2 separate regions of the Homo sapiens genome follow, and region 1 is linked to region 2. Evidence: fine-mapped expression QTL. A gene starts in region 2. The other region holds a variant in brackets. All regions are shown on one strand. Distances are from middle to middle. Region 1 overlaps ANO7 (anoctamin 7). Region 2 holds the start of ANO7 (anoctamin 7).

What was found. PIP is the estimated chance that this variant, and not a neighbour inherited with it, causes the effect.
Region 1: its variant is fine-mapped to the expression of ANO7 in tibial nerve (GTEx, PIP 0.96).

Annotation. Positions count from the first base shown.
Region 1 is chr2:241,208,031-241,223,401 of GRCh38, forward strand. It overlaps ANO7 (anoctamin 7), which reads left to right. Exons shown (of 25, transcript NM_001370694.2): 12 at 1,255-1,398; 13 at 1,468-1,605; 14 at 2,265-2,363; 15 at 2,438-2,540; 16 at 4,064-4,175; 17 at 4,542-4,596; 18 at 6,775-6,872; 19 at 8,063-8,208; 20 at 9,656-9,861; 21 at 10,209-10,351; 22 at 15,156-15,246. Among named protein-coding and RNA genes, the nearest start is that of ANO7, 27 kb to the left of the region's middle. RefSeq lists enhancers at 5,070-5,629, 8,268-8,799, 10,907-11,006 and a silencer at 9,434-9,563. The variant A/C (reference allele first, on the strand shown) is at 9,739.
Region 2 is chr2:241,179,914-241,195,284 of GRCh38, forward strand. ANO7 (anoctamin 7) reads left to right here and starts at 8,764. Exons shown (of 25, transcript NM_001370694.2): 1 at 8,764-8,853; 2 at 10,144-10,258; 3 at 11,281-11,338. The coding sequence starts at 10,151. LOC105373971 (a long non-coding RNA gene) reads right to left here and starts at 8,509. Exons shown (of 3, transcript XR_924064.3): 1 at 8,363-8,509; 2 at 6,051-6,195. It overlaps PPP1R7 (protein phosphatase 1 regulatory subunit 7), which reads left to right. Exons shown (of 10, transcript NM_002712.3): 10 at 2,734-3,739. The coding sequence ends at 2,910. RefSeq lists enhancers at 6,316-6,838, 8,034-8,718, 8,719-9,402, 10,336-10,836, 10,837-11,337.

The DNA of each region.
Region 1 (15,371 bases), 28 kb after region 2:
CTTACAAGACCTGGGCGGGAGGCTCCTGCAGTCTCTGAGCCCCACTGTCCCCCCTCCCGCCTGGCATGCTTCCTGGGTCTGTCCACCTTCCCAGGGGCCTCAGGGCCTCGCTTGTACCCCACATGCACTGGACCCAGAGCCCTTGGCACTACTGGTGGGCCAGACGCCGTTTGACCTCACTTCTGGGAATCCACTTGGATGTTTCCTAGGACCACAAATGGGGACTTAAAACAGCAGAAGCTTATTCTCACAGGCCCGGGGCCAGAGTCCAGAATCAAGCTGTTGGCAGGCTTGGCCACTTCTGGGGACTCAGCCCCAGGCCTCTCTCCTGGTTTCTGGTGCTGCTGGCAGTCCTTGGTCCTCCCTGGCTTGTGGCCGCCTCATTCCAATCTCTGCTTCCATCTCCACCTGGCCTTCCCTTCTGTGTCTGCGTGCTGGTTCCTCTTCTCCCCTCTTGTAAGGGTTTGTCCAGAGTACTCTCATCTGGAGATCCTTACCTTACATCTACAAAGGCCCTTATTCAAATAAGATTACATTCTGAGGTTCCCAACGAACATATCTTTTGGGGGCCAGAATTCAACTCACTACAGGTCATCCTCTGGTTCCAAAACTTCATGTCCATCCCACGTGCAAAATACACTCACCTCATCCCAGCATCCTCCAAAGTCTCAACCTCTTACAGCATTAACTCTAGGTCCAAAACCTCATGAAAATATCAGCTCAGAAAGTCCCAAATCGCATCCTCAAAGTCAGGTGTGGGTGAGACCTGGGTGTGAGCCGTCCTGAGGCAAAATTCCTCTCCCTCTGTGGGTCTGTGCTTCCAAAACACAGTCAGGGGGCTGGGCACGGTGGCTCACGCCTGTAATCCCAGCACTTTGGGAGGCCAAGGCGGGTGGATCACAAGGTCAGAAGATCGAGACCATCCTGGCTAACACGGTGAAACCTCGTCTCTACTAAAAATACAAAAATTTAGCCGGGCGTGGTGGCGGGCGCCTGTAGTCCCAGCTACTTGGGAGGCTGAGGCAGGAGAATGGCGTGAACCCGGGAGGCGAAGCGTGCAGTGAGCCGAGATCGCGCCACTGCACTCCAGCCTGGGTGACAGAGCCAGACTCCGTCTCAAGCAAACAAACAAAAAATACACAGTCGGGGGATGTGTGTGGGATGCACACTCCCATTCCAGGAGGAAGGAACACTGGAAGGAACAAGGGGCCTCCAGTCCCAAGCAAGTCTGGACGCCCCCGCTCCCTGCCACAGGCCGGCCGGCTGTTCGACCACGGCGGCACCGTGTTCTTCAGCTTGTTCATGGCACTGTGGGCCGTGCTGCTGCTGGAGTACTGGAAGCGGAAGAGCGCCACGCTGGCCTACCGCTGGGACTGCTCTGACTACGAGGACACTGAGGTGAGCCACCCCCGCTGGACCACGGTCACACCCGGCGAGGGCCGCCACTGAGCACCGGCTCCCTTCCAGGAGAGGCCTCGGCCCCAGTTTGCCGCCTCAGCCCCCATGACAGCCCCGAACCCCATCACGGGTGAGGACGAGCCCTACTTCCCTGAGAGGAGCCGCGCGCGCCGCATGCTGGCCGGCTCTGTGGTGATCGTGGTGATGGTATGCGGTCCCCCTGCCCTCCGCTCACGCCTCCATCCTCCTGCACCATGTGGGGTGGTTTTGTCCCCCATCTCACCTTGGTGCCGTGGCCAGATGCCTCCTCTGGGCACAGAACCCTCACTCCCCGCAGAGAGGCCCCCATGTGCCCGGGCTCGGCCGTGGGGTCCCGGCTGAGAGCAGGTGTGAGTCATACGGAGGGCCTGGGAGGGTCTCCCCGTGGGTGCGGGCATGGGGCATTTTTCAAGCAAGGGGGTTGGTTTCAAGGAAAAGAGAGGCGGGCACCCCAGCAGGGCCATTCACTGCACCCTGTCTTGCCTTCCAGCCAAAGGGGCTTCCTAATAGGACCTCTCACTCCCCTGCCAAGATGTCAGGAATCCCCAATTCCTGGGATGGGATGGCTCTCCAACACTCACAGTGGCTGCCTTGACACCCAGATGTGGCCCAGCCTCTAACTCTAACCCCACCCCACCTCTGCCTGAGCAACTCATCAGGAAGGACATAGCCTGGGAGCACAGCCGGGGCTGGAGGCAGGGGCCTTCCTAGAGGTGGCAGTGCTGGGGCCAGCAGTGGACTAGAAGAGCTGTCGGGGGCCATGGCCTGAGGGTGCTGGGGTGCCCAAGACACCGTGAAGGGTCTCACGGGCCTCCCTGCCCCCGCAGGTGGCCGTGGTGGTCATGTGCCTCGTGTCTATCATCCTGTACCGTGCCATCATGGCCATCGTGGTGTCCAGGTCGGGCAACACCCTTCTCGCAGCCTGGGTGAGCCTCTGCTGCCTGCCTCGGGGGGCCCTGAGCGGCCCCTCATCCGGCTCTGACGGCCTGTCTCCCGTTAGGCCTCTCGCATCGCCAGCCTCACGGGGTCTGTAGTGAACCTCGTCTTCATCCTCATCCTCTCCAAGATCTATGTATCCCTGGCCCACGTCCTGACACGATGGGGTGAGTGGGCTGAGGCCGGCCAGGCACTGACCAGGGGCCCACCCTGCCGGCCGCCAGCCAGAACGTGACTTTCTCACTCACTGACACACATGGCCCTCATTTCTATTTCTTTCTTCTTTTTTCTTTTGAGACAGGATCTCACTCTGTTGCCCAAGCTGGAGTGCACTGGCACGATCATGGCTCACTGTAGCCTTGACCTCCCAGGCTCAAGGGATCCTCCTGCCTCAGCCTCCTCAGTACCTGGACCACTGTGCCCAGCTGAAATTTTTTTTTTTTTTGATAGAGACAGGGGTCTCACTGTGTGGCTCAGGCTGGTCTCGAGCTCCTGGCCTCAAGGGATCCTCCTGCCTAGGCCTCTCAAAGTGCTGGGATTACAGGCATGAGCCACAGCACCTGGTTTTCTTTCTCTTATTTTTTGTTTTTGGCACCCCAGGTGGGACACAAACAATCCCTGGGTTAGGAAGCCAGTGCTCCCTATTTCTAAATGTGGTACAGATTGGAGTTGTCTGAGCCTCCCCAGAGGCCCCCTTAAAAGAGCAGTGAGCAGGGCCTTCCTGGAGATAAAAGACCCTGGGGGCACTCCAGCACCCAAAGAGTTCTCACCCCTCCACAGGGCCCCCCTCCAGGCTGCAAGGTCCCCCAGGTGGGAGATGTCCCTCTAGGATAGGGCCGCTGAGCCTCTGTTGGGTGGTGTGGGGTATCGGCTGCTGGGCTGGGCAGCCACCTCTCAGTTCTTCCCTCCCCCTTCCTCTCCCATCGGTCTTTTTCTCTGTCTCATTTCCTGAGGACAAACACTTACGACCAACCTATTCATTCCATAAGCTGCTGCCTCTCACTAGCCCTGCTCTAGCCCTGGGGGTGAATAGTCTTGAACAAAAGCTGGCAGCCCCACCCTGGAGCCCAGGTTCTAGGAGAGGGGACAGAACTGGCTGCCTGCACAGCTACAGAGAATGGGAGAGGGCTTAAGTGCTGAGGAGGAAGTGCCTCCTGGTGGGTGGCCAGGGGAAGGTGGGTGTCAGGGAAAGACCTTTGCAGGTGGCAGGTGTCTCAGGGAGAGGTTCCTGGTTCTGGATGGCCAAGGGTAGGGCTCTGAGGGGAGCCACCCATTTGTTTCTGCAACTGTGGGGTTGCTGTGGGGTGTTGAGCCTCCCTCTTTCCCTCCTGTAACCTTCAGCCTTTGATGCTCCTGCCTCCGGCACCTGCACCGGAGCCCAGTCCGCTGCGCAGCCTTGGCACCGAGCCTCTATTCTGTTTCTCTGACCCATCCCCTGACCACTCACCCGTGTGCACCACATTCATTATTAGTGTTGGGATATAGGGTATTATCAATTTTCCCAACTCCTGTTAATCAACATGTTTTTGGGTGACTTCGGAAATGTCACACTTTGTCTCCTTCTTTTAAATATCTGGATGATATGGCCTTTTCCTCACCCGTGTGTGGCAAGGTGGTCCTAGGAGAGGGGGCCCCTAGTTGGATGCTGGTGACTCCCCCAGGGACTGAGCCCAGGCTCTCCATGCCACAGAAATGCACCGCACCCAGACCAAGTTCGAGGACGCCTTCACCCTCAAGGTGTTCATCTTCCAGTTCGTCAACTTCTACTCCTCACCCGTCTACATTGCCTTCTTCAAGGGCAGGTTGGTGGGCACCTCTCCCTCTGGCCACAGCTTGTCCCGGCTTAGTTCTGCTCATGTTTCCCGCTGCCTGGGTACCAGGCGTCATCCAGCCGTGCTCAGGCAGGTGGAGGACGGAACCGGAGACCCAGGCAGGGGACAGGGGCCCATGCCTCCTGGCACCTCTGAGCAAACAGGGGCTGCCCACCTCTTGGTCCCTACCCAGCTCGGGGGTCCACAGGAGGCCCAGCTCACAACCGGGACTCTACGCCACAGTTCGTGCTTCCTCCAGGGCAGGTGCAGCAGCTCTGCTGAGGCCTCCAGAGCCCAGGGAAGTGGGAGGAGACAGGAAGGATCCCATCAAGGCTCATGATCTTGACTTTCTCCTAGGTTTGTGGGATACCCAGGCAACTACCACACCTTGTTTGGAGTCCGCAATGAGGAGGTGAGTGTGCCTGAGGCCCGGGACTGGGGGATGAGCTGTGTGCTTCCTCTCACTTCCATTCTTCCATTCGAGCTTTGATTTGCAGCAATTCCTCCCACCACCGGCTATTTCCATCGCCCAGCCAGGGCCAGCTGTGCAGCTGACCACTCAGGGCTCCCAGCCTCTCTTCACCACTTATTCTGACCCCCGATATGCCCCATTCAGAACCACACCAAAACACTCCAGGCCGGGCACAGTGGCTCACGCCTGTAATCTCAGCACTTAGGGAGGCTGAGGGAGGAGGATCGCTTAAGCCCAAGAGTACGAGACCAGCTTGGACAACATAGTGAGTCCTCATCGCCACAAAAATTAATAAAAAAGCAAACCAAAAACCCTACCCCACCCCAGCTGTCCCAGCCCGTATTACTCTTTCCCCATTTTAACCCAATTCACACCTGAGAAAAGTGTGAGCCATTACGGTGGGCGCAGAGCCTCTGGCACACAGGCCCGCAGAGGCTGGCCTCCTCATGGCACACGGCCCGCAGGGGCTGGCCTCCTCATGGCACACAGGCCCGCAGGGGCTGGCCTCCTCATGGCACACGGCCCGCAGGGGCTGGCCTCCTCATGGCACACAGGGGTCGCAGGGGCTGGCCTCCTCACAGGCTTGGCGTGCTGCCGCCATGGCTGTCAGGGATCTCCCTGTGGCCAGCTGTCCTCTCCCCATCAGCACAGTGGGCTCTGCCTGTGACTGTATCTCTAAGAGCCTTAGCTACTCCGTATCTCTGAGAGCCAGGCGTGAACCTGGTTTTTCAGAAAGCAAATGGAAGTTCACCTGGTGGAGGATGAAGCGTTGTTGTCACGGGGGTCCCTGCAAAGCAGACCCCAAGACAGAGATTCTGGTGCAAGTAACTGACGTGTGCATCACCCCAGAAGTAGTCTCCACTGTGCCACAGCCCCTCCAAGACACCGTAGAGAAGCCCTCAAAACTGTTCCCGACGCACAGCCCCTCCTGGGTGAGGGCCAGGCATGTCCCAGCAGCTGGGGTCGCAGGCAGCAGGGTGGGTGCATCTGGAGCCATCCACAGGTGGCCTCTGGGCTGGGCTGGGACCTAAGTGGACCCCTGCTGAGTGACCCCTGGCCTGAAAGACCTCTTCTCCTTTTGGAAGAGGAGGAGGAGGAGAGAAACTTCGCATGGGGTCTGGGCCATGAGCCAGCCCAACTGCAAAGTGGCTGCCCCCAAAGGGGTGGTGTCCATTTCATGTGAGAGGGGAAAGGGAAGGCTGGGGATGGAGTGGGGAGTGTGGCTGCGGGTGCCACAACGGACCAGCCAGAGGGCTCTCAATTGTTAAGTGGGAAAAGTTCCCAACTCAAACTGGCTTAAACGAAAAAGGGAGTTTTCGGCCAGGCGTGGTGGCTCATGCCTGTAATCCCAGCACTTTGGGAGGCCAAGGCAGGTGGATCATGAGGTCAGGAGTTCGAGAATAGCCTGGCCAATATGGTGAAATCCCGTCTCTACTAAAAATGCAAAAATTGGCCAGGCGTGATGGCACGCACCTGTAGTCTCAGCTACTCGGGAGGCTGAGGCAGAAGAATTGCTTGAACCCAGGAGGTGGAGGCTGCAGGGAGTTTTCTTGGCTCCTGTACTGAAAACGCTCAGGGCTACGCGGGCTTAGGTATGAATGATCCAGGTGTTAAAAATGCTGCACTGCTATTCCCAGCATTGCCTGTGTTCTCAGAAAGATTATCCCCATCTGGAGGGAAGGTGCCCTGCAGTGCGGCCGACACTCTCGGACTTAGCACCCCTTGCAAGGCACGTGTTCCCAGGAACTCCACCTCCCACTGGCTCGAACTGGGTCACCGATTGGTGGGGCCTGCCTCGTGGGTCTGTCTTGAAGCCAGAGGCTACAGTCAGCCCCATGTAACCCCTTGTGGGTCTCCAAAGGAAAACTGGGGTGCCATTAGGTACATATAGCAGTGCCCCCTGCAGCTTTCCAATGCAGTCTTCCAGCTGGACCTGGGGGCTCCTGTGAGGTCGGGAGGGAGTGTTATGGTGGGAGCATCTCTGCAACCCTCCAGGTGCCCAAGGCATGTCAGGAGGGAGGTGGGGGCCGGGATGAGGGCCAGCTTTGAGACAAGAAGGGATGCGTGGGTGAGTGGCTGGTCCCCCTCTCCCAGCTAACCTGAGCCCTGCTGCCGTAGTGCGCGGCTGGAGGCTGCCTGATCGAGCTGGCACAGGAGCTCCTGGTCATCATGGTGGGCAAGCAGGTCATCAACAACATGCAGGAGGTCCTCATCCCGTGAGTCCCCCACTCCTCCCTGGGTGGCATCCAAGGACCGAGGGACCCCAGAGCACCTGGCAGTAGCAGCCTCCAGCCCGGCCCTAGCTGGGAGAAGAGGTGAAGGGAAGGCACCTTGCCTGGGGAGGGGGAGGGGGAGTGTGCCCGGCCGTCTGCCCCGGGCTCTGGGCTGCCCGCCCTGCAGCTGCCCTGTGGCTGGCTGAGGTCTTCTGGGTTGTAGTTGTGGGAGACGCTACCCCTGGGACCAGCTTTGGCTGGGGAGGGGGTCTGGGCTCCTGGACCCAAGGCTGGGGTGATGGCTCTGTCCGTTCAGAGATGCTGCGGCTGGGCCAGAGTATTCCTTGGCATCCCCAGGCCCCAACGCAGCACAAGAGGGAGGAGGAAAAGGAGGTCCCAGGGTTGATCCTCAGACACACGTCTGCCTCAGATGCCCCTGCCAGGGACACCCTGACCACAAGGCTCCCATAGCCAGAGTCCTTCAAAGAGGCTGCCCAGGGCCTCGCCTCCCGCTCAAGGCCAGACTGACCTGAACGCCCTCCCAGCGCCCCCTGAACACCTGATCTGCCCCCAGAAGGCAGCTCCCAAATCAGCACTGACATTTCTGGGCCACCAGGAATAGCAGTTGGGAGATGGTGGCCATGCCACATCCCGAGAGATGGCCCTGCCTCTTGGAACTATTGGTGCTGTGAAACCACAAGACCATAAGGTGCAGGGTGGAGCTCTGTGCCTGGCAGGAGCAGGGCACGGATGAGTGACAGTGTGATAAGGCAACATGCACACATGCCCCTGTGTAGGACGAACCCAACACGTGGGCCTCCACATCTGCTTTCCCTGGGACACCACAGTCGTCCTCGTCCACTCCCTCCCAACCTTGGCAGAGCTCTTGGCACTGCTTTGCAATTCCGGGAGGAGCCCATTACCCCTAAAGCCTTAAGGAACAATGCGGGGGGCTGGGCGGGTGGACTGCCCTCCCACATCTGACCAACAGACACAGACGCTTTCACTGAGTCCGATCTGCAAAGCTGTTGGCTCTCACTGCGTCCACCCCTCAGCCCCAGACCCCATCCCTCCCTGCTGCCCTTCAATTGCAAAGCAACAGGCTTGTCCCGGCCACATCTCCCCCAAGGACTATAGCAGCCACTGAGACCCATGTTGGATCAAAGGCCATTTTCCTGTATTCCCGTCCCCAGGAAGCTAAAGGGCTGGTGGCAGAAGTTCCGGCTTCGCTCCAAGAAGAGGAAGGCGGGAGCTTCTGCAGGGGCTAGCCAGGGGCCCTGGGAGGACGACTATGAGCTTGTGCCCTGTGAGGGTCTGTTTGACGAGTACCTGGAAATGGGTAGGAGCCCGTTAGCAGCTGCGGCAATGGCTGGCGCCGTGGGCAGGGATGGGTGGCCACTCTGCTCAAGGGCCTCCCAGCCTGACATTCCTGTGTCTGCATCTGCCCTGAAATGTGCTGTGGGGGTGGGGTGGGAACAGAGGGTCGGGCCTGTGGAGAATCCAGAAAGGAATTCTTTTCCCCTGAGAGTGCCCAAGAGGGTTGGCTGAGGACAGAGGGGCACCGGCACGGGGAGGAGGCCCCCGCGGCCGTTGCAGAGCTCCCCTGGGGTCCCTGGACCTAGAAAGCATGGGCCAGAGCAAGGGAAGAATTAGGAGAGCAGGCCCTGGGGGCTGACAGAAGTCCTCCAAGGGTGAAGCCACAGTGGGAGGCAGCGGCCTGGAGAGCCAATGTTCCCAGAAATCTCAATGCCCACGCTATTTGCAGACCTACCACTGTCACCTTACCAGGTGGTGGCCAGTGCCAGGGGCTCACTGCCTGCACGGGTGGTGCACTCTGGAGGGTGGGTCTGTATCACCTGTGCCGTCCCTGCAGTGCAGGGTCTGACTCTGAGCTGACAAAAGGGAGAAGGAATCATCAGGCAGTTTGTTTGTTTGTTTTTGTTTTGTTTTTTGAGACGGAGTCTCCCTCTGTCGCCCAGGCTGGAGTGCAGTGGCGCCATCTCGGCTCACTCCAACCTCCACCTCCCAGGTTCAAGCAATTCTCCTGCCTCAGCCTCCCGAGTAGCTGGGATTACAGGCGCCCACCACCACGCCCGGCTAATTTTGTATTTTTAGTAGAGGCGGAGTTTCACCGTGTTGGCCAGGCTGGTCTCGAACTCCTGACCTCAGGTGATCCACCTGCCTCAGCCTCCCAAAGTGCTGGGGATTACAGGCGTGAGAAACTGTGCCCGGCAGGCAGCTCTTAACCTAGCAAGCGGGCATGTGAGCCGGCAGGCCCCGGAGCTCCCCAGCGTAGCCGCGGCATCTGTGGAAAGGGAGCAGGCCAGTTCCCAGGGCGAGGAGTGGACGCCCTGACCCTCCTCCACTGAACCCTGGACCCCAATGATCTCACTAGTAATTCTCGGCGAAGACCCAGAAGCCCCTTCCAAAGAGCCCTCTCCTAACAGCTCCCCTGTGGGGTGACTGGAGAAGCTGGTTGTAAAATCAGGAGCAGGTTTCTGCCCCAACGCCTGCCCTGAGTTAGTTCCTGAGCTCACCGAGCCGGAGAAGGCCCGTGACCAGCCAGAAGCACGGAGCGCAGGGCAGGACAGCCGGCCTGAGGCCGGTCAGGAGAGGCGGCCCTGGCGCTGCGCGGTCCAGGACGAGGGAGACCAGGAGGTGGGGGCGGAATGAGCCGCGATGGGGTGGCGGCACCACGTGGACTGGCCGGTCCTCCGCGGGGGGCGCGTTCCGAGGGCTGAGGGCGGACGGTGGCGGAGAGCCCGGCCGTGACCCCCTCCCCGCAGTGCTGCAGTTCGGCTTCGTCACCATCTTCGTGGCCGCCTGTCCGCTCGCGCCGCTCTTCGCCCTGCTCAACAACTGGGTGGAG[A/C]TCCGCTTGGACGCGCGCAAGTTCGTCTGCGAGTACCGGCGCCCGGTGGCCGAGCGCGCCCAGGACATCGGCATCTGGTTCCACATCCTGGCGGGCCTCACGCACCTGGCGGTCATCAGCAACGTGAGGCCCGGGCGGGAGCGCGGGGCGGGGCGGGGGCGCGCAGGGGCGGGGGCGGGGGGGGCAGCGGGGGCGCGCAGGGGCGGGCCGGGGGCAGCGGGGGCGCGCAGGGGCGGGGCTGGGGGCATCGGGGGCTCGTAGGGGCGGGGCGGGGGGGCGGCGGGGGCGGGCAGGGGCGGGGGGCAGCGGGGGCGCGCAGGGGCGGGGCGGGGGGGGCAGCGGGGGCGCGCAGGGGCGGAGCGGGGGCGCGCAGGGGCGGGGCGGGGGGGCAGCGGGGGCGCGCAGGGGCGGAGCGGGGGCGCGCAGGGGCGGAGCGGGGGCCGCCTCGCGCTGACCCCTCCGGCGCCCAGGCCTTCCTCCTGGCCTTCTCGTCCGACTTCCTGCCGCGCGCCTACTACCGGTGGACCCGCGCCCACGACCTGCGCGGCTTCCTCAACTTCACGCTGGCGCGAGCCCCGTCCTCCTTCGCCGCCGCGCACAACCGCACGTGCAGGTGAGCCCCGCGCCAGGTGGAGGGGGCCGCGGGCGCACGAGGACGAGGCGGAGCGGGGCTCGGGTGGGGTGGGGGTGCGGCGGTGGGGAGCCGGGAGGGGCGGGCGCCGCCGGGCAAGGCCGGGGGAGGGGGGGAGCTGGGGGCGCCGTGGGCAGGGGCTGGGGGGAGGTTCCCCGCGGTAAGGGACGGAGCTTTGCGGGGCTGGAGGGCAAATCGTGGATTCTAGGTGAATTGCTAGTTGGTCATAGTGTAGCAGGACGAGTCGCAGACAGAACTCCTCAGACACCGGATTAAAGAAGGAAGAGGTTTTTTTATTCGGCCGGGGGCGTCGGCAGACTCGTGTCTTCAGAGCGGAGCTCGCCGAAAAAGAAATTCTTAGCCCTTTGAAGGGCTTACAACTCTAAGGGTCTACGTGAAAGAGTCATAATAGATCAAGTAAGCGTGAGGAACGTGACTGTGGGCTACATACATCAGCTAACGGTACAAAAAGTTTTACGGTGCTTTCTCATACAGCGTCTGGAATTCACACATAACACCAGTAGTTTTGGTCAGGGGTTAATATTATTGTTATTTTAACCGCCAGGGCCAGGTGGTGGCGCCAAGGTCATCTAGCTATTTATCTTCTGTTTCTTTCCAGCTTTTTGCTTTCTTCCTTTTCTCCTGTCTTATAAACTAGGGAAAAGGGGAGGTTGGGGAGAAACTGGGAAGGACAACAGGAGAAGTGGTGGCCTCATACCATAATAGAACCTGCAGAGCAGGTAGATGTACTTCACCCGCAGTTGTGGAGACTTCCTTTGTGATCTGGTTACAATGAAGTTTTGCATGTGTTTCAATAAACTTGAAAAGCATCATAGTCTCCTAATGTTGGAGCAAATCTCAGCAGTAAAATTACGAAACCATAGGGTTATCAGTCTTTTCATATCGGTCTCTCTCAGGTTTTGCTTTTGCTCTATGTATTTTGAGCTTTTTAGTTGTGTACGAATTCATACTTGTGATCTCTTCATAATGGATACTTACTTTTTCCTTTTATTCTTTATCTTTTTTATTCCTCCTCTCCTGACTTCTGGTGGATGGGTAAAAGTGTTCTGGTTGTTTTTTTTATTATTATTCTTTTGCTTATTTGGAACCGATGGCATATATTTCTATTATTTTAGGGGTTACTCATATGTTTAGCATACATTCTTTTCTTTTTTCTTTTTTTTTAGAGACTGGGTCTTGCTCTGTATCCCATTCTAGAATGCACTGCCACAATTATAGCTCACTGCACCCTAGACTTCCTGGGCTCAAGCAATCCTCCCACCTCAGCTTCCCGAGAAGCCAGAACTACAGGCGTGTGCCACCAGGCCTGGCTTTTTTTTTTTTTTTTTTTCTTTAAAGAGATGGGGTCTTACTATGTTATGTTACTCAGGCTAGTCTCAAACTCCTGGCCTCAAGCAATGCCCTGGCCTCCCAAAGCACTGGGATTACAGGCACAAGCCACCACACCCGGCTAGCACACGTTCTAAACTATATATTATCCTAACAAAGCCTGAATGAACTCAGTTTTGTTTCCTCTCTCTGTGTATGACTAGGATCTTCACATGCCTTACCACCTAGTAAGCAGCAATCTCTCCATCTTATTATTGTTACATGGAGTTTTAGTTTTACTGTTAAAAACACACATGAAAAAACATTTTCAGTCATCTGTTCATCAAATTTATTTGTGTATTTTGTTAACTTCTGTGGTTACAGTAATTTCTTATGTATTGCCTTCTCCGAGTCTTTTTTTTCTTGCTGAAGTATATCCTTTAGTAATTCTTTCAGTAAAGGTATGTGGTTAGTGGGGTCTTCACATGCAGAAATGCATACACATATGTATGCATAGAAATATGTATCACGCATATGTATGATAATATTGCCATGCATTTTTGTCCTTCAAATAGCGGATATAAAAGTATAGGTCGAGTTATTTTCTCTCAGTTCTTTGGAAATATTATTCTTTTGTGACTTGGCTTTTCTGATTGGAAGCATTCATAGCATTTAAGAATTTTTCTGGCTGGGCATGGTACCTCATGCTTATAATCCCAGCACTTTGGGAGGCCGAGGCAGGTGGATCATTTGAGGTCAGGAGTTCGAGACCAGCCTGACCAACATGGTGAAACTCCATCCCTGTTAAAAATACAAAAAAAGGCTGCACACAGTGGCTCATGCCTATGTTCCCAGCACTTTGGGAGGCCAAGACCATCCTGGTTAACACCGTGAAACCCCATCTCTACTAAAAATACAAAAATTAGCTGGGCGTGGTGCTGGACGCCTGTAGTCCCAGCTACTCGGGAGGCTGAGGCGGGAGAATGGCGTGAATCCAGGAGGCAGAGCTTTCAGTGAGCCGAGATTGTGCCACTGCACTCCAGCCTGGGCAACAGAGCAAGGCTCCGTCTCAGAAAAACAAGAACAACAAACAAAACCTGGCTGTGGCAGTTCACGCCTGTAATCTCAGCTGCTCTGGAGGCTGGGGCAGGAGGATCATTTCAACTCGGGAGGCGGAGGTTGCAGTGAGCCGAGATGGCGCCACTGCACTCCAGCCTGGGCAACAGAATGAGACGCTGTCTCAGGAAAAAAAAAAGAAAAAAAGAAAAAAGCACTACCTTTACAGATGCCTGCTGGTGAAACAAATCAAAGAAAATGATATTTTTATTTTTTTATTTATTTTATTTTATTATTATTTTTTTGAGACGGAGTCTTGCTCTGTTGCCCAGGCTGGAGTGCAATGGCGCGATCTTGGCTCACTGCACGCAACCTCCGCCTCCCGGGTTCAAGCGATTCTCCTGCCTCAGCCTCACAAGTAGCTGGGATTACAGGCGCCCACCACCATGCCCAGCTAATTTTTGTATATTTAGTAGAGATGAGGTTTCACCATGTGGGCAAAGCTGGTCTTGAACTCCTGACCTCAGGTGATCCGCCTGCCTCGGCCTCCCAAAGTGCTGGGATTACAGGCCTGAGCCACCTTTCACGCCCGTCCTATTCTCTTTTTTCTTTGGGACAGAGTCTTGCTCTGTCACCCAGGCTGGAGTACAGTGGTGTGATCTGGGCTCACTGCAACCCCCGCCTCCTGGGTTCTTGTGCATCAGCCTGCCAAGTAGCTGGGATTACAGGCGTGCGCTACCACACCCAGATGATTTTTTTTTTTTTGTATTTTTAGTAGAGACAAAGGTTTCACCATGTTGGCCAGGCTGGTCTCAAACTCCGAACCTCAGGTATCTGCCCACTTCAGCCTCCCAAAGTGTTGAGCCACTGCACTTGGCCTAGGGAAGGGATTATTTCTTTTTTTTCTTTTGAGATGGAGTTTTCCTCTTGTCGCCAAGGCTGGAGTGCAGTGGCATGATTTTGGCTCACTGCAACCTCCACCTCCCAGGTTCAAGCGATTCTCCTGCCTCAGCCTCCTGAGTAGCTGGGATTACAGGTGCCTGCCACCATGCCCAGCTACTCTTTTATATTTTTAGTAGAGACGGAGGTTTCACCATGTTGGCCAGGCTAGTTTCGAACTCCTGACCTCAAGTGATCCACCTGTCTCAGCCTTCTAAAGCACTGGGATGGCCGGGCGCGGGGGCTCATGCCTGTATTCCCAGCACTGTGGGAGGCCGAGGCCGGTGGATCACAAAGTCAGAAGATTGAGACCATCCTGGCTAACACGGTGAAACCCCGTCTTGACTAAAAATACAAAAAATTAGCTGGGCATTGTGGCACGGGCCTGTAGTCCCAGCTACTCAGGAGGCTGAGGCAGGAGAATCGCTTGAACCCAGGAGGCGGAGGTTGCAGTAAGCGAAGATCACGCCACTGCACTCCAGCCTGGGCAACAGAGCGAGACTCTGTCTCATAAATAAATAAATAAATAAATAAATAAATAAATAAATAAAGTGCTGGGATTACAGGCATGAGCCACCGCGCCCGGCTGAAAGAGTTACGTCTTTGTTTAGTTCTGGAAATGTCTCCATCTTACTCCTTCCAGCAGTGCTTCTCTGCTTGTCCATTGTCGTCTGGAACTCCCACTGGGCTGTGGCCTGCTTCCCCCCAAGTGTGCTCTCTGTGTTGCCGCAGGGTGGTCTCGTCGTCACTGTCTCCCAGTCCCCAGTCTCTCTTCTGCTGTGTCTGGCCACTTAAAAGTTTATTCCATTCATTTGAGGGATTTTTTTTCCAATGGCTATATTTTTAACTTGCAATATTTGGTTTTTTGTTTTTTTTATTTTCCTACAAAGTTGACCCTGGTAATAGTTTTCATGGAGTGCAACATGTAACTTTATATTAGAAAATGGAATGTCACATCTTTACCATGGGACAGAGACACAGGAAGATGTCAAAGTCTGAAATAGCAAGTGAAGCTGAATGTAGCTTATGATAGGGAGGGAGGGCTCTGCTGGACAGGGACAGTCTCTGAGCAGGTGAACTGCTGATCTCACAGAGGTCAGCAATCGGCGGATTTTCACCGTGTAAGTAGACTGAAGTCATCCGTAGAAGCACAGACGTACTGGACTGTCACATCTACTAGAAAATAAAGCATCTGCCACCTGGGGGGTGGGGAGGGTCCAGTTTAGCCCAATGGGGGACAACCCAGCACATCCACCTTTGGAACCCACCAGTTAAAGGTATTGTCAGAGTATCCTGTTTGGGAAGAATTCCCATTTCAGGCACCCTCGATGAAGAGCCAGGCCAGGAACATGGGATGAGAGAGCGAAATGGTGGAAAAAGGGGAGATAGGCTAATTCCAGAGGCACCTGCCCAGCCAACACTCAGCCCTGGCTGCGCGCACTGAGTCCTGTGTCTGCTGCAGGTATCGGGCTTTCCGGGATGACGATGGACATTATTCCCAGACCTACTGGAATCTTCTTGCCATCCGCCTGGCCTTCGTCATTGTGTTTGAGGTAGCCGAGGCACCTGCTGGTTCTCCCATCCATGGCATGAGGCCCCGACCCTGTGCTTTGCCTAATTCGAGCACGTGGTGAGGGGTCGGTGCCGTCACTTCCTGCTGTGTCATCTTGGTCAAATC
Region 2 (15,371 bases):
TTAGGTTTACTAAGTCCTGGAGAAAACTGCTCTGAGATTGGCAGTGCTATGGAAAATTACAACATCTGCAATTTATAAAGATGGTCCGCCCATCTAGACTAATAATGACATTGGAAAATGCTGTGATGTGTGAGACAAGAAGCATCTGGTGTGTGACAAACACAAATACATCACATATCGAGAAAGAAGGAGGTGACACAGCTTGAAGACCTCCCACGCCAGAGCTGAAAGCCTGAGTCAACTGCCAGTGGTGTTTTGAATCATTTTTTAAATAGACTATGCTACAAGAAAATCTTACTTCTTCCAAACAGTGTGATATTGCTACTTTCATTAAATGAATGTCCTTTTTGTGTGTTTTGTGGTAGAAGTGGTTAAGGCAGTGGTGTTCAGTCTTTGGGCTTCCCTGGGCCACACTGGAAAAAAGAAGAATTGTCTTGGGCTACACATAAAATACTCTAACGATCGCTGGTGAGCTAAAAAAAAAAAAAAAAAAAAAAGTGAAAAAATCGCAAAAAAATCTCAAAATGTTTTTAAGCTTACAGATTTGCGTTGGGCCTCATTCAAAGCCATCCTAGGCCATTTACAGCCTGCAGGCCGTGGGTTGGACAAGCTTGGTTTAAGGCGTGTGTGTGCATCATTTTCGTGACTCTCCACTTTAAGGGGCTCTTTCTGTTAACTGACCAGTGACCGGCCAATCACAGGCCTGGCAGGTGGATGGCTTCCCCTGTAATTCTAGTGTTGCAGGCTCTGCACTGGCCACACAACCAGCGGGGCGGTGCGAGTGTAGTAACAGAGTAGCATTTAAGAAGGTACGCTCACGTCCCGTCCACATGGAGGCACTGGTCGGGACAGCAGCAGCAGGGCACCAGCCCTGGTGGTGCAGCTCCTCCCAGCAGGTGTCAGTCCCTCTTCAAGGGCTAAGCTCTAGGATTTGGAATTCTTGGTTTCCCAAGGCTGGTACGCACTAGTCCCACAAAAGGTTCTGTGAAAATAGGGTCCCTCAGGCCAGGCGCAGTGGCTCACGCCTGTAATCCCAGCACTTTGGGAGGCTGAGGCGGGTGGATCACTTGAGGTCAGGAGTTCAAGACCAGGCTGGCCAACGTGGTGAAACCCCATCTCTACAAAAATACAAAAATTAGCCGAGCATGATGGCGAGTGCCTGTAATCCCAGCTACTTGGGAGGCTGAGGTGGGAGAATCGCTTGAACCCAGGAGGCGGAAGTTGCAGTGAGCAGAGATTGCCCCATTGCACTCCAGCCTGGGCGACAGAGCGAGACTCCCTCTCAAAAAAAAGAAAATAGGGTTCCTCAAACAGGCAAACCTGTGAGATGCACGTTATATTCCTCTCTGGGAAGCCCCTGACACACGGTAAGTTACTAAAGACAGCCTGGCTGTGACAGTGGACCTGGTGCAAAACTAGCCCTCCTGCCACAGACAGATAGAAAAATATGAAACAACTCTATTCAGGCAGTGGACAGCAGGCAGCACGCACCTGCAGGCTCTGAGGAGGGAGTTCCAGCGCGAGCCCCGTGATCACCCCACTCCTTACCTGGGATGTTTCCCAAGCAGAACACAGTACTTCTGAGTGGAAGAGGCAGAGATCAACATCTCTGGCAGCTAGAGTGTGCCAGACAGGGCCCCAGAGAGAAGGGGAGCTGTGCAGAGCAGAGGTCCAGAAGTCCATGCAGGGACCCCCCAGTCGGACCACAGCTGTGGGCAGGGCAGTGGGCAGTGTGGGCCCCAGAGTAGAACGCCCCTGCTTGCCTTCCGTTCCACATGGACAGTTCCCTTCCTAACTTCCCTGTAAAAGGAGTCGAAGTCTGTCACCCTATAACGAGTGCCCCTGCCTGTGCCCATTGTAGGTTCACAGTCAAGTCCAGCTGCCTCTTCAGGAGCAGTGCCCGTGCTCTTGCCACCGCGGTTTGCCTGGCAGGCCCTGAGGCCGGGCAGCTCTGAACATGTGATTTCTACACACAGGGTGTTTGAAAGGGAGGGTCAGACCAACAGGGTTTGAAGCTGGACTGGCTCCCCTTGTTCTGGAGATGGCACCACTGCACTCCAGCCTGGGCGACAGAGCGAGACTCTGTCTCAAAAAAAAAAAAAATGCAAGAGAACTCTTCCTGCCAAAGGCAGGTCCCTCCAACTGGGCATGGCAGGGCCAAGATGGTAAAATGTAGCCTGCAACTCAGACCTCTGAATCCCACCTGCTCACGATTTGTGTCCCTGCACTTGGTATTGGGTGAAAGCAGCAGCTGGGACTTCCTTGTGGAGAGAGCCATAGAGGTAATTTACAGAAGAGTTGAGAGTTTTAAGTAGAGCGGCCTCTGTCTGCTGTGTCACAGTGATGGCGCAGAGTGCAGCCTTGGGAATGATGGCTGAGAACTGGTTTGTAGAAAGTGCAGCCCACCCTGCTTTGACACTTGCCTATGGACAAGTGTAGCAGGCAGGTGGCCAGAACTGCTTTGTCCTTCCTCTGCTGACCTGAATGTGGACTTGGCCCCGTCATAGTGACTGGCCCAGGGTTGGCTATGGACAGGTAACTTGTACTTGGGATGCAGCTGAAGGTGGCCAGGATGCACCAAGAGGCCATGGAAGGTCCCATGAGGTGCCAGGGAAGACCCACACCTGCTCGCCATCTTCTGAGTGGGAAGGAGGAGGGTGGCTAGTGGACCCCACCAGAGTCGAGGGCTGGGCTGTTTGGTTCTAAAGGCTTTTCTGCTGTGTGTGTCCCCAGATGAACGACAATCTCCTTGAGAGCTGGAGCGACCTCGACGAGCTGAAGGGAGCCAGGAGCCTGGAGACAGTGTACCTGGAGCGGAACCCCTTGCAGAAGGACCCCCAGTACCGGCGGAAGGTCATGCTCGCCCTCCCCTCCGTGCGGCAGATCGATGCCACGTTCGTCAGGTTCTGAGTCCTTCTTGGCTCCTCATGTGGTCCCTCTCCTCGGAAGAACTGCCCAGCCACGGGTTTTTAACCCACCTGTTGCTCCTGAGGTCGTCACTATATCAACAGTCACAAACCCAATGGCAATAAAGGCACTGACGATAGCTGGCGCGCGCGACGTCACACACCATTTTCAGATGCCGTTGCAATTAAATCTTGCCACACTGTCCTCCTGGGTGATTGTTGACAGTTATTGTAGCCACAGAGAGAACATAAGACACGTTGCGTTCATTCGCTAGAAATCCCTGTTTCCTTCTCTCAGAAGGCAGTCACAGTCCCTACCTGAGTCGTGTGAAACACAGGGCCTGAGAGTGCTTTACAGGCATTCACGTGCTGTCCGAGTGGCATTCGGGGGCTGGCCTAGCTGGCCCTAGTCCTGGTGTGCAGGGTTCAGGCAGTCTTGACCTGCAACAACCGAGGTTTTTTAGTCTTTTAACCCAGCCATTTTCAATTTTTTAAAAATTAGGTAAGTTAAAAAAGCTGGGTAAAAGCTGACTCAGCCCTGTGTGCTTGTGTTCCTTAGAGCTCTCCTTCAAAGAGCGCCGGGCAGGGCTGACTGTTTTCACGTGTGCCCGTCAGTTCTCGCCACATCCCTTGCCTGTGGGTGAAAGCTCAGGTGTGGGGAGGGTGTCCTGTGTCCCACACGGTGCTGTGCTGCTGCCAGAATACGAGTCCCATTGAGCCTCTCCAAAGACGGCCTCCAAGGATCTGAACTCTTGGCCACTGGTATAGTGGCCTCCTGTTCTCACCCCATTGTTATTTTGGCTTTTTTAATATAAAATGTACATTGACAGACACCCGAAGTCTGGATTTAATGCTACCAGGGCATCGTCACCTCCCAGGGTCTCAGATTTCTCCTCCTGCAGAATGAGGGCCACATCATGTGGTCACCAAGGTCCCTTCTGCCTCCGGGACTCTAGACTCTAGAACCGTCTACTTGAGGAACCAGGACTCTAGAACCGTACTGTCCAATGTGGGCGAGGCTGCAGTGAGCCATGATTGTACCCACTCCAGCCTGGGTGACAGAGGGAGACCCTGTCTCAAGTTTTAAAAGGCTCCAAATTAATACCCAGCCATCTGTTCTTTAACAGACATTTTTACAAACATACAAAAAATGTGGAAGTGATGAGGAAAGGTATGCTAAATCCAGCACAATCCTAATCAAAATGCCATTTGATTTTTTTTTTTTTTAAGGAGTCATTCTCTGTCACCCAGGCTGGAGTGCAATGGCGCAATCTCAGCTCACTGCAGCCACCACCTCCCAGGTTCAAGCGATTCTCCTGCCTCACCCTCCCTAGTAGCTGGGATTACAGGCACCCGCCACCACACCCAGCTGATTTTTGTATTTTTAGTAGAGATGGGGTTTTGCCATGTTGCCGGGCTGGTCCCAAACTCCTGACCTCAGGTGATTCGCCCACCTCAGCCTCCCAAAATGCCGGAATTACAGGGGTGAGCCACCGCACCCAGCCACCATTTGATTTTTTGAGACACATTAAATTCTAAAATTTAATTTTTTTTCCTTTTTTTTCTGAGACAGAGTCTCGCTCTGTCGCTAGGCTGGAGTGCAGTGGCGCGATCTGTGCTCACTGCAAACTCCGCGTCCCGGGCTCAAGCGATTCTCCCGCCTCAGCCTCCTGAGTAGGTAGGACTACAGGCACATGCCACCACACCCAGCTAATTTTTATATTTTTAGAAGAGACGGGGTTTCACCATGTTGGCCAGGATGGTCTTGATCTCTTGACCTCATGATCCACCTGCCTCTGCCTCCCAAAGTGCTGGGATTACAGGAGTGAGCCACCGTGCCCGGCTTTTTCTTTTTCCTTTTTTGGCGAACAGGGTCTTGCTATATTGCCCAGGCAAGTCTCAAACTCCTAGGCTCAAGCTGTCCTCCCACCTCTGCCTTCCTAAAAGCTGGGATTATAGGCATGAGCTACCGTGCCCGACAAATTCTAAAATGTATATGGAAGAAAAAAGTCAACATTGTGATTCAATTCATTTTGAAAAAGAGCTGGGAGAGACGCTTTCCTACCAGATCCTGAGTGCTGCAAACCCACAGTGAGAGTGTGGGGGGAGGCCTGACCTAACAGCACCAAGACAGGGACACCTCAGCAGGAACCCAGGGGACTCGGGGACTGGGAAAAGTGTCCGGGGGTCGGGGAGGGGTGGACAGTGTCCTCATGATGTTGGCAGAGTGCACTATGTGGAAAAATGAACACTGCCCCTCCCTGGCATCACACACAGGATAGGCTCCAGAGCAATTGGTGATTCATGGGCGGTGGTGAAATAGGAAATCAGTAGAAAATAATGTGGGAGACTGGGCATGGTGGCTCGTGCCTGTAATCGTAGCACTTTCGGAGGTCAAGGCGAGTGGATTGCTTGACCTCAGGAGTTCAAAACCAGCCTGGGTAACACGGTGAAAACCCATCTCTACTTTAAAAAAACACAAAACTTAGCCGGGCGTGGTGGCAGCCACCTGTAGTCCCAGCTACTCGGGAGGCTAAGGTGGCAGAATCGCTTGAACCCGGGAGGCAGAGGTTGCAGTGAACTGAGATCTCGCCACTAGCACTCCAGCCTGGGCGACAGAGTGAGACCCTGTCTCACACCCCCAAAAAAGAAAAAAGAATGTGGGAAGGCGGATATGTGAGCTAGCAGTAGAGAAAACTCCCCAAGGCCGGGTGCGGTGGCTCATGCCTGTAATCCCAGCACTTTGGGAGGCCGAGGTGGGCAGATCACAAGGTCAGGAGTTCGAGACCAGCCTGGCCAACATAGTGAAACCCCGTCTCTACTAAAAATACAAAAAATTAGCCGGGCATGGTGGCAGGCACCTGTAATCCCAGCTACTCGAGGAGGCTGAAGCAAGAGAATTGCTTGAACCCAGGAGGTGGAGGTTGCAGTGAGCTGAGATTGCGCCATTGCACCCCAGCCTGGCCAACAGAGCAAGACTCTATCTCGAAAAAAAAACTCCACAAACACAACTGTAAGACAAGATTTTGATGGGTTTATTTACATAAAATTTTACATAGAACAAAAATAATGAATAATACCTGAATAATGGCAACAGTAGATTAAGAGAAGGCGTTTGCAGCTTTTAAAACTGGCAAGGCTTACCATTTAGAACTCCCACACATCAAATAAAGGAGACAGGAATCCTGACGGAAACGCAGGCCAAGGGCCAGAGTGGGCAACTCAGACACCAGGGGCCAGTGGCCTGTGTGGAGCCGCCGCTCACAGGAAGCTGGGCTGCTGGCTGCACCTGCAGACAGGAAGGTTAGAAAGCGGGCAGTGCAGGCATCCAAGAGTCTGTCCCCTGCGACCCAGCCACCGTCCGTCCAGCAGGGCTCCCATGTGGCTGGGGCGCAGTGCCAGGGTCCTCATGGAGGGAGCCCTGCACGCGCCTCCAGCCTCAGAAGGAGCCTCAGAAAGAGGCTGAACTTCAGTGTGGGCTCTTCACCACCACTTCCACCTCCACTAACTACACCCTAAGTATGTCCATAAATGTTACAGCCAGCCGGGCACGGTGGCTCACGCCTGGAATCCCAGCACTTTGGGAGGCCGAGGCGGGCGGATCACGAGGTCAGGAGATCAAGACCATCCTGGCTAACAAGGTGAAACCCCGTCTCTACTAAAAATATAAAAAATTAGCCGGGCGTGGTGGCGGGCGCCTGTAGTCCCAGCTACTCCGGAGGCTGAGCCAGGAGAATGGCATGAACCCGGGAGGCAGAGCTTGCAGTGAGCCGAGATGGCGCCATTGCACTCCAGCCTGGGCGACAGAGCGAGACTCCGTCTCAAAAAAAAAAATGTTACAGCCAAAGAAAGATGGTGCAGCAGATTCTGGGCCTGGGCTCTTCCCAAGGCCTGGAACCTGGCGGGCCCCCTGTGCTGGTTGCGGCTTTTCTCCCTCCCTCCCTTCCTTCCTTTCCCTCAGAAGTAACACAACTTGAAAAAACCACCCACCCAAACAGAGTTGTATGAAGTAAAAATGGAAAGACACTCCTCAGGGCCGAACCCCCTTTAGGTGTTGTGCGTGCACTGTCGCTGAAAGGGCTCCCACTGGGGTGTGGTCACCTCCAGCAGCCGGCCCTGAAGCTCTTGAGTAGACAGCCCTGAGGCCACCAGAGCCACTTTGTCACCAAGAGCAGAGAGCCAGGAGCTCCTGGGAGGTGGCATGTCTTCCTGGGAGGGTCCTTGGCCAATGACTGAGCAGAGTAAGAGCCTACAGTTGCATCCAGGTGAGGAAACGCTTCGTCTTGCCTCCCCTGCAGAGTGCCCATGGCAGGCTGAGGCCACCCTCCACAGGTCTTGGGGAGATGGTGCCCCGCTCATCCTCCCTCCCCTCCTGCCTCCCGACTCCTTTCCTGGTTTCTGGAGCACTTCCCCAGTCCAGCCCTCGTCCAGGGATCCACCTCAGGCGCCTGCAGGCTGAGCTTGGCCAAGCAGAGACCTCTCATGCAGATGCCCTGAGGCCCAGGGCCCCAAGGTCCTGCCGCCCAGGCTCTGCTGGTGCTGACAGGGAACCCGGCCTGCAGGGCCTTCCCGCTGTTCCGAGGCACAACACAGGTCCAAGAACAGGGCCCCTTGGGAGGTGCCAAGCACAGAGGGGCATAGGTATAAGGGAAAGCTGCAGCCAGGATGAGGGTCCGCCTGGAGGGATTTCAACAGGCAGAAGGGGGCACCTGGAACAGCAAGCTGAGCTTGGGGCTCCCCAGTGCAGTTGTGCATGGAGGGCGAGGAGCACGGGTGGTAGGTTCTCAGACACTGCCAGGCACCAAGGAGGAAAGGGGGAGGGGGAGGGAGAGGGGAAGAGGAGGGGCGGGGAGAAAGGATAGGAGGAGAAGGAGGAGGAGAGGGAGAAGTGGGGGGAGGGGGAGAAACAGGAGGAGGGGAGTGGGGAGAAAGGAGGAGAAGGAAGAGGAGAGGGAGAAGTGGGGGGGAGGGGGAGAAACGATAGGAGGAGGGGGAGTGGGGAGAAAGAGGAGGAGGAGGAGGAGTTGGGGGGAGAAATGATAGGAGGAGAGGGAGAGGGGAGAACGGATAGGAGGAGAAGGAGAGGGAGGAGTAGGGGGGAGAAACAATAGGAGGAGAAGGAGGAGAGGGAAGGTGGGGAGAAAGGATAGGAGGAGGGGGAGAAAGGAGGAGGGGGAGGAGGGCTAGGAGGAGAAAGAGGAGGGCTAGGAGGAGAATGAGGACGAGGAGGAGGGCGGAAAGGATGGGAGGAAGGCTAGGACCCCTCCTGTCCTTTTGCAGATGGGGCCCTGAGCATGGGATGTGCCTGAGGTCACCCCTCAGGCATTAGCAGAGCCAGCAGTGTGATCTGGGTCTCCCAATCTCCCCAGCCCCCGGGTGAAACCCTGGCCCACCACTCAGCACATGCTACGTAACCTCAAGGAGCCTCAGTTTCCCCCCACATAAACAGAGCTTACGAGGTCTGCCTGGCAAGGCTTCCAGCAGAGGTGGCACTTGTGGCTGTTCCTGTGGAATCCCACCTCCTCGAGACCCTCCAAGGCAGCAACTATGACAGCTGATGCCAGCCCTGAAATCTCTAAGCAAATAAGGTTCCCAGGAGGACGGCAGCATTTGCATGCGGGTGTGTGAAAGCCCAGCCAAGTGGGCTGCCTCTGTCTGCAGCTCTGAGCCCCACACCCCCTATTTAAACAAAGATAGATCCTGCTCCAGGAGCCGGGAAGCCTTGCCCTGGCCAGCTGTGCTGGGCACCTCCCCTGCCTGCTTCCTGGCCCACTTGCAGGCAAGGTGAGGGCATGCGAATGGCTGCCACTGCCTGGGCGGGGCTCCAAGGGCCACCCCTCCCCACCCTCTGTCCCGCAGTGAGGACGGGACTCTACTGCCGAGACCAGGCTCACGCTGAGAGGTGGGCCATGACCTCCGAGACCTCTTCCGGAAGCCACTGTGCCAGGTGGGGACCCAGCCTAGACGTGTGGGCCACAGGGAGAAGGTGGAGCGTTGGACTCTAGGGAGGCAGGGCGGCACCCCAGCCCACCGGGACTTTCACACACCCTGGCCTGTGGGGAGGCAGTGCCAGGGCCCGCCCTGGTCCCCAAAGCCCCTTGGGGCACGAGGAGGGACACACACTCAGTGCGGCTCTGGACGGGGTACACCCAGCTGGGGTTGGCTTCCTGCCTGCCCAGGGGCTCCCCCATGGAGCAGGTCCCTTCGTTGGGGTGGGGGGCATCCCCATTCTTTCTGCAGAGAGCTCTGAGGAGGGGCCCGCCTGCCCACCACAGAAGGATGGGGGCATGAGGGGCTGCTGGGTGGCCGAAACTCCTCGGGGACTTTCCTCCAGGAACACCCCACAGTCCGTAGTGAGGCTCCCAGCCTGGGGCCGGGGCCGAGTCCTAACACTGAGACCTGGCTCGGGCTTCAGGGTTAGGCAGGTGCAGGCGGCCCAGGCTCAGTCTCTGTCCCTCTGGGCCTCCGCTAATGTGAAGTGAAGGGTAGAACTAGAAGGCTGCCCCTCCGACCTCCTGCGGCGCCTCCATGGTCACACCCTCCGGTCATCGTCGCAGCTCCAAATGCCAGCCCCAGCTCGAACCCTCTCCTTCCAGGGCCACAGATGTCGTGCTCCTGGCCCCGTTTTGCCAGCCCAAGACTAGGAGCCACGGCACCTGTCCTCCCACAGAGAGAGACCCCCGGGGCGAAGGTGCGGGAGGAAGCTGGGACCCCCAAGAGTTGTGAGGCCGGGCTCCATCAGGCCCGCCTTGCTGGGGAGCTCAGGGCCTATGGGTCCTGGCACTGGGTCCTCAGGCCATGAGCGAAGGCAGGCGACTTGAGGGGTTTCCTGTCCCTGGCTCACATGGCTCCACCCTACGGATAAGAGAGGGAGAGGTGTCTGTACTCCAGGCCCACCTTTCTGGGCCTTCTCAGGCTCCACTGAGTACCCAGGCAGAGTGGACGGCATTCAGGGCTGGGGGACACGGGCACTCACTGGATGGACAGACAGACGCCTGCTGTGCCAGGCCTGCCAGACGCTCCCGCCCCGGCACTGGTTTCTTCCTGGAGCTCGTGGCTGGCTAGGGGGTTCTCCATGTGCTCATGGCCAGGAGAGTCTGCCGAGCCAGCCCAGCCCCATTCTACTCCGAGTCGAGTCTGTAAAGTGAGCTCACTGCAGGCAGTGTGGTGGCCCCAGGAACGGGTCTCACCCATCCCCTCTCTGACCCCCATCCCCACCCGGCCTTGCTGGGTGCAGGAGCAGGATGCTGCGGCGACGGGCCCAGGAAGAGGACAGCACCGTCCTGATCGATGTGAGCCCCCCTGAGGCAGAGAAGAGGGGCTCTTACGGGAGCACAGCCCACGCCTCGGAGGTAACAGCACCCAGGAGACTGTGGTGCGACTTGAGAGGTCCTCCCCTGCCTGGGTCTATGCCCCCACCCTGGGCCCAGAGCCTCTGGGGGTGGATGGGCATCACCGTGTTTCTCCTGCATCCCCCGGCAACCCCCAAGCCCTCGCCACCCAGTCCTCAACACACACAGTCAGATCACCGCTCTCCTGGCCTGGCCTGGCTGTGGAGAACCGAGCAGAACCCACTGATGTTCAGACAGGAGCTCCAGGAGGGTAAGGGGGGCCTGGCCAGGCAAAGGCAAGACCAGGGCGGGGCCCTCCCTGTGGTGTCAGTCCCAGTCAGTGCAGGGCCACAGCAGCACCCAGGGCCATCTGTAGGGCTCCACCTTGTCACTAGGAGGCCATGGATGCGCTGTGAGCCTGTGGGGAGAGGCTGGGTCCCGGGCCTTCAAGGCCATGCGGGAGGCCCTGGCCGTGGAGGGCCCTCTTCCTGGTTCTCCTGGGCCACACGTCTGCCCCAGCAGCCTGCGGGTGGACACGGGACCCCTTCCTGCCGCCCCAAGCACAGCTGAGATGAGCCTCCAGGGAGGGCACAGGGCCTCTCACCTCAAGCATCCAGACACTCTCGGTCGCCATGGCCAACTCTGTCCTCAGGGCCCCTTTGGGAGCAGTCCGGCTCCCCTCTGCCCCTGGAGGCCAGCAAGGCAGGCACCCCTGGTCCTGGCCATGCTTCCCGCCAACCTGACCCTTGCCATGGGCCTGGCCCAAGGAGGAGGGGAGCCGGCTGGAGGCCCAGGGCTGGTGGTGCCCTCTGGCCCTGCCTGCCGCTCCCCGCGCCTGCGCATCCTGTGCCCCCACACAGCAGAGGGGCTTCCCCCTCCACCCCCTACCCACCCGCCGAACATTCTTCTGTGGTCCTGAGTGTTCTGGGGCAGGGCGGGGACGGGTTGGAGGCGAGGACGGCTTCAGGGTGGGGCGGGGTGGGTGTAGTTGTCGAGGGCAGATGCTGATGCTGATATGCTTCTCCATCCTCCATGCCTTCCAGCCAGGTGGACAGCAAGCGGCCGCCTGCAGAGCTGGGAGTCCTGCCAAGCCCCGGATCGGTGAGCCCCTCCCAGCACCTGTACCACACCCGTGTTGGTCCTGAGGGTGGGGACACCACGGGGGTGCCCCCAGGGGCAGCAGGCTGGGGTAGCCTCCTCAGTAGCCACTCTGGGGCCAGTTGCTTGGGGATGGGGCACTGGGGTGAGGGCCTCGGGGTGAGCAAACCACAGTGGGAAGAACAGCAGGAAAGGGGGCTCCCTACTGATGGGGTGGGGCCGGAAGGGCTCTGGAGAGTGGACAGGGCTGCCCCCTCCCTCCTGCTCCAGTCCCCTCCACCATCCTCCAGCTGTTCAGCCACAACTCAGGTCATTTCTGACTCTTATCTCTTGCACTCCACCCCTTTTGTACCTTCAAAATCTCTTTGATCCACCCCCAACCCACTGCCTCTGTCTGCCCGGAGCTACCACCGACTCCAGGGGATTGCACCAGCACCAGCCGGGCTCCCAGCACCCACCCCGCCCACCCTGCTGTCCCCTCAGCACCAGAGAGACCCTAACCTCCTCCCACTAGGATGGCTACTACTTAAAAAAAATCACAAGTGTTGATGAGGATGAGCGGAAACTGGCTCACTTGTGCATTGCTGGAGGGAGTGTAAAATGGTACAGCTGCTAAGGAAAACAGCAGTTCCTCAGAGAATTCAGCACAGAGTTCCCGTAAAAGCCAGTATGTCTTCCCTGGGTGAGCGCCCACGAGCACGGGATGGGGGCCCCGGGGAGATATCTGTACACCCGCAATGTCATTCACTGTAGCTGGAAGGCGTGCATTCGTCTGCTGGGACTGTCATAAGAAGTACCACAGCCTGGGCCAGGCACAGTGGCTCATGCCTGTAATCCCAGCACTTTGGGAGGCCAAGGCGGGTGGATCACCTGAGGTCGGGAGTTCGAGACCAGCCTGATCAACATGGAGAAACTAAAAATACAAAATTAGCCAGGCGTGGTGGCACATGCCTGTAATTCCAGCTACTCGGGAGGCTGAGGCAGGAGAATCGCTTGAACCCAAAAGGCGGAGGTAGCGGTGAACCGAGGTCGCGCCATTGCACTCCAGCCTGGGCAGCAAGAGCAAAACTCCATCTCCAAGAAAAAAAAAAGTACCACGGCCTGCGGGGCTTAGATGGCAGAACTTTCTTTTCTCACAGTCTTGGGGCTGAAGCCCGAGGTGAGGGTGAGGCAGGGCTGGTGGCTTAGAGGCCTCTCTTTTGGCTTTTGCAGACGCGCCTTCTCCCTGTGTCCTCACACCCCCGGGGTCTCTTCCTCCTATAAGGACACGAGTTGTCATGGATTAGGGCACACCCTAATAGCCATCACGTGTCTTTAATGACCTAATCTCCAAATACAGTTTCATTCTGAGGACTGTGGGGTGGGGCTTTGACATACAAATTTTGGAGAAACTTAGTTCAGCCCATATCAAGGTGGAAGCCATCCACGTGTCCACCTACAGATGACTAGATAAGCAAAATGTGGTATTTACATCCAACGGATTTATTCAGCCTTAAAAAGGCAGAAAAGTCTGACACAGGCTGCAACGGGGATGCGCCTTGTGGACAGTATGCTACGTGAAATCAGCCAGTCACAAAAGGACAAATGTGATTCCACTTATATGAGGTCCCCAGAGAGTCAAATTCATAGAGAGAGAAGGTAGAATGGTGGGTGCCAGGGGCTGGGGACGGGGAGGGGGAGTTAGTGCTTAATGGGCGTAGGGATTCAGTGGAGATGGATGGTGGTCATGGCTGCACAAGAATGTCAATGTCCTTAGTACCAATGACCTGTACACTTAAATGTGGTTAAGATGGTTTTTTGTTTGGTTGGTTGGTTTTTTGTTTTTTGTTTTTTGTGTTTTTTTTGAGATGGAGTCTCACTCTCACCCAGGCTGGAATGCAGTGGCACAATCTCGGCTCACTGCAACCTCTGCCTCCCTTCGCACCATTCTCCTGCCTCAGCCTCCCGAGTAGCTGGGACTACAGGTGCGCCCCACCACGCCCGGTTAATTTTTGTGTTTGTAGTAGAGACGGGGTTTCGCCATGTTGGTTGGGCAGGTCTTGAACTCCTGACCTCAGGTGATCCGCCCGCCTTGGCCTCCAAAAGTGCTGGGATTATAAGTGTGAGCCGCCACGCCCAGCCTAAGATGGTTTTTTAAAACGTAGACAGCCCTTATTTTCTCAAAATCCTCCACACGCCCCCTCTGTGTGTGTGAGGCTTAAGGCATCCTCGCAGCTGCCTGTGCAGCCACAGGCCTACCCCTCCCTCCCAGCCCCACCAGGCCCTCAGACCACATCTCCTGCTACCAGAAGCTCCCCACCCTTCATTCCAAGACAGCACCTCCCAAGATACAATCGTTTTAAACTTTCATATAAAGGTAGAATATATTCTATCCTCTGAGAAAATCATGCCTTTTATCAATATTAATTGTGCCTAGAAAATTGTCTATCCATAATCATGCTTTGTGTCTTAAAATCCATTTGGCCTGGTATTGTTAAAGTTTTGTCAGTTTTGTGTGTTCTGTTTTGTGTCAAAGGGATTAACGTATGCCTGATGTATTATTTCCCATATTTAGAAAGTGAGTCTTTCAATCCTCAAATATGGTATTTTCTCCATTTATTTAGGTCTACTTTAATTTCTCTTTTCTTTCTTTCTTTTTTTCTTTTTGAGACAGAGTTTCGCTCTTGTTGCCCATCTGGAATGCAAGGGCACGATCTTGGCTCACTGCAACCTCCACCTCCCAGGTTCAAGTGATCTCTGGCCTCAGCCTCCCAAGTAGCTGGGATTACAGGCATGTGCCACCACGCCTGGCTAATTTTGTATTTTTAGTAGAGACAGGGTTTCGCCATGTTGGCCAGGCTGGTCTCGAACTCCTGACTTCAAGTGATCTGCCTGCCTCGGCCTCCCAAAGTGCTGGGATTACAGGCGTGAGCCACCGTACCTGGCCTTTAATTTTTTTTTTTTTTTTTTTTGCTGCTTTCGTGAGATCTTGCACATCTTTTAGTAGATGTATTCCAAATAGCATTACTTGGAAAATTTCACTGCCTATGTGTCATAGGTATATAGAAATTATTTATTTCCTTTTTTTTTTTTTTTTGAGATGGAGTCTCGCTCTGTTGCCCTGTTGCCCAGGCTGGAGTGCAGTGGCGTGATCTCAGCTCACTGCAAGCTCCGTCTCCTGGGTTCACACCATTCTCCCGCCTCAGCCTCCTGAGTAGCTGGGACTACAGGTGCCGGCCACCACGCCCAGCTAATTTTGTTTTTGTATTTTTAGTAGATATGGGGTTTCACCGTGTTAGCCAGGATGGTCTTGATCTCCTGACCTCGTGATCCACCTGCCTCAGCCTCCCAAATTGCTGGGATGACAGGCGTGAGCCACCAAACCCAGCCACAATAAGATATTGTAAAAGAGCGAGACAGAATGCCCACATTCACATAACTTTTACTGCAGCATTTTGTTATAATTATTCTGTTTTATTATTAGTTATTGTTCATCTCTTACTTTACCTAATTCATAAATTAACCTTCACCATAGGAATGTATATCATAGGTATGTACGTATTATAGGTATGTATAGGGAAAGACAGTATATATAGGTTTGTTACTCTGCACAGTTTCAGGCATCCACCGGGTTCTTGGATAGATCCCCTGCAGTTAAGGGGACTCCGTTGTCCTTACTCCTCGGGTGTGGCCTGCGAGTCTCTGCTGGATGACCAGCGTGTTCCAGCTGGAGCTCAGATTCCCCAGCACTGTGTATCCTCTGGAATCTTTGTCAGCCATGGGCCTCCAGCAGCTGCCTCTGTGTATGAATAGCTTGGTGCTCCAAGGGCCTGGGGGACTTTCTCACAGACCCGGTGGCTCCGTCTTCTTCCCAAGCTCCAGCCCCCTTAGCAGCACCTAATTCAAATGCCCATTCGCCTCACCCACCAATGCCTCTGCTTGGGCTCTATTGCCCTCCCTGTCGTTTGGGAAATGCCCCAGGAGGAAGTGAAGGGAAGGGAAGGCTCACCTCGCACGCTCCTCTTATCTGGAGCGCCTGAGCCCAGCATCCATTGCT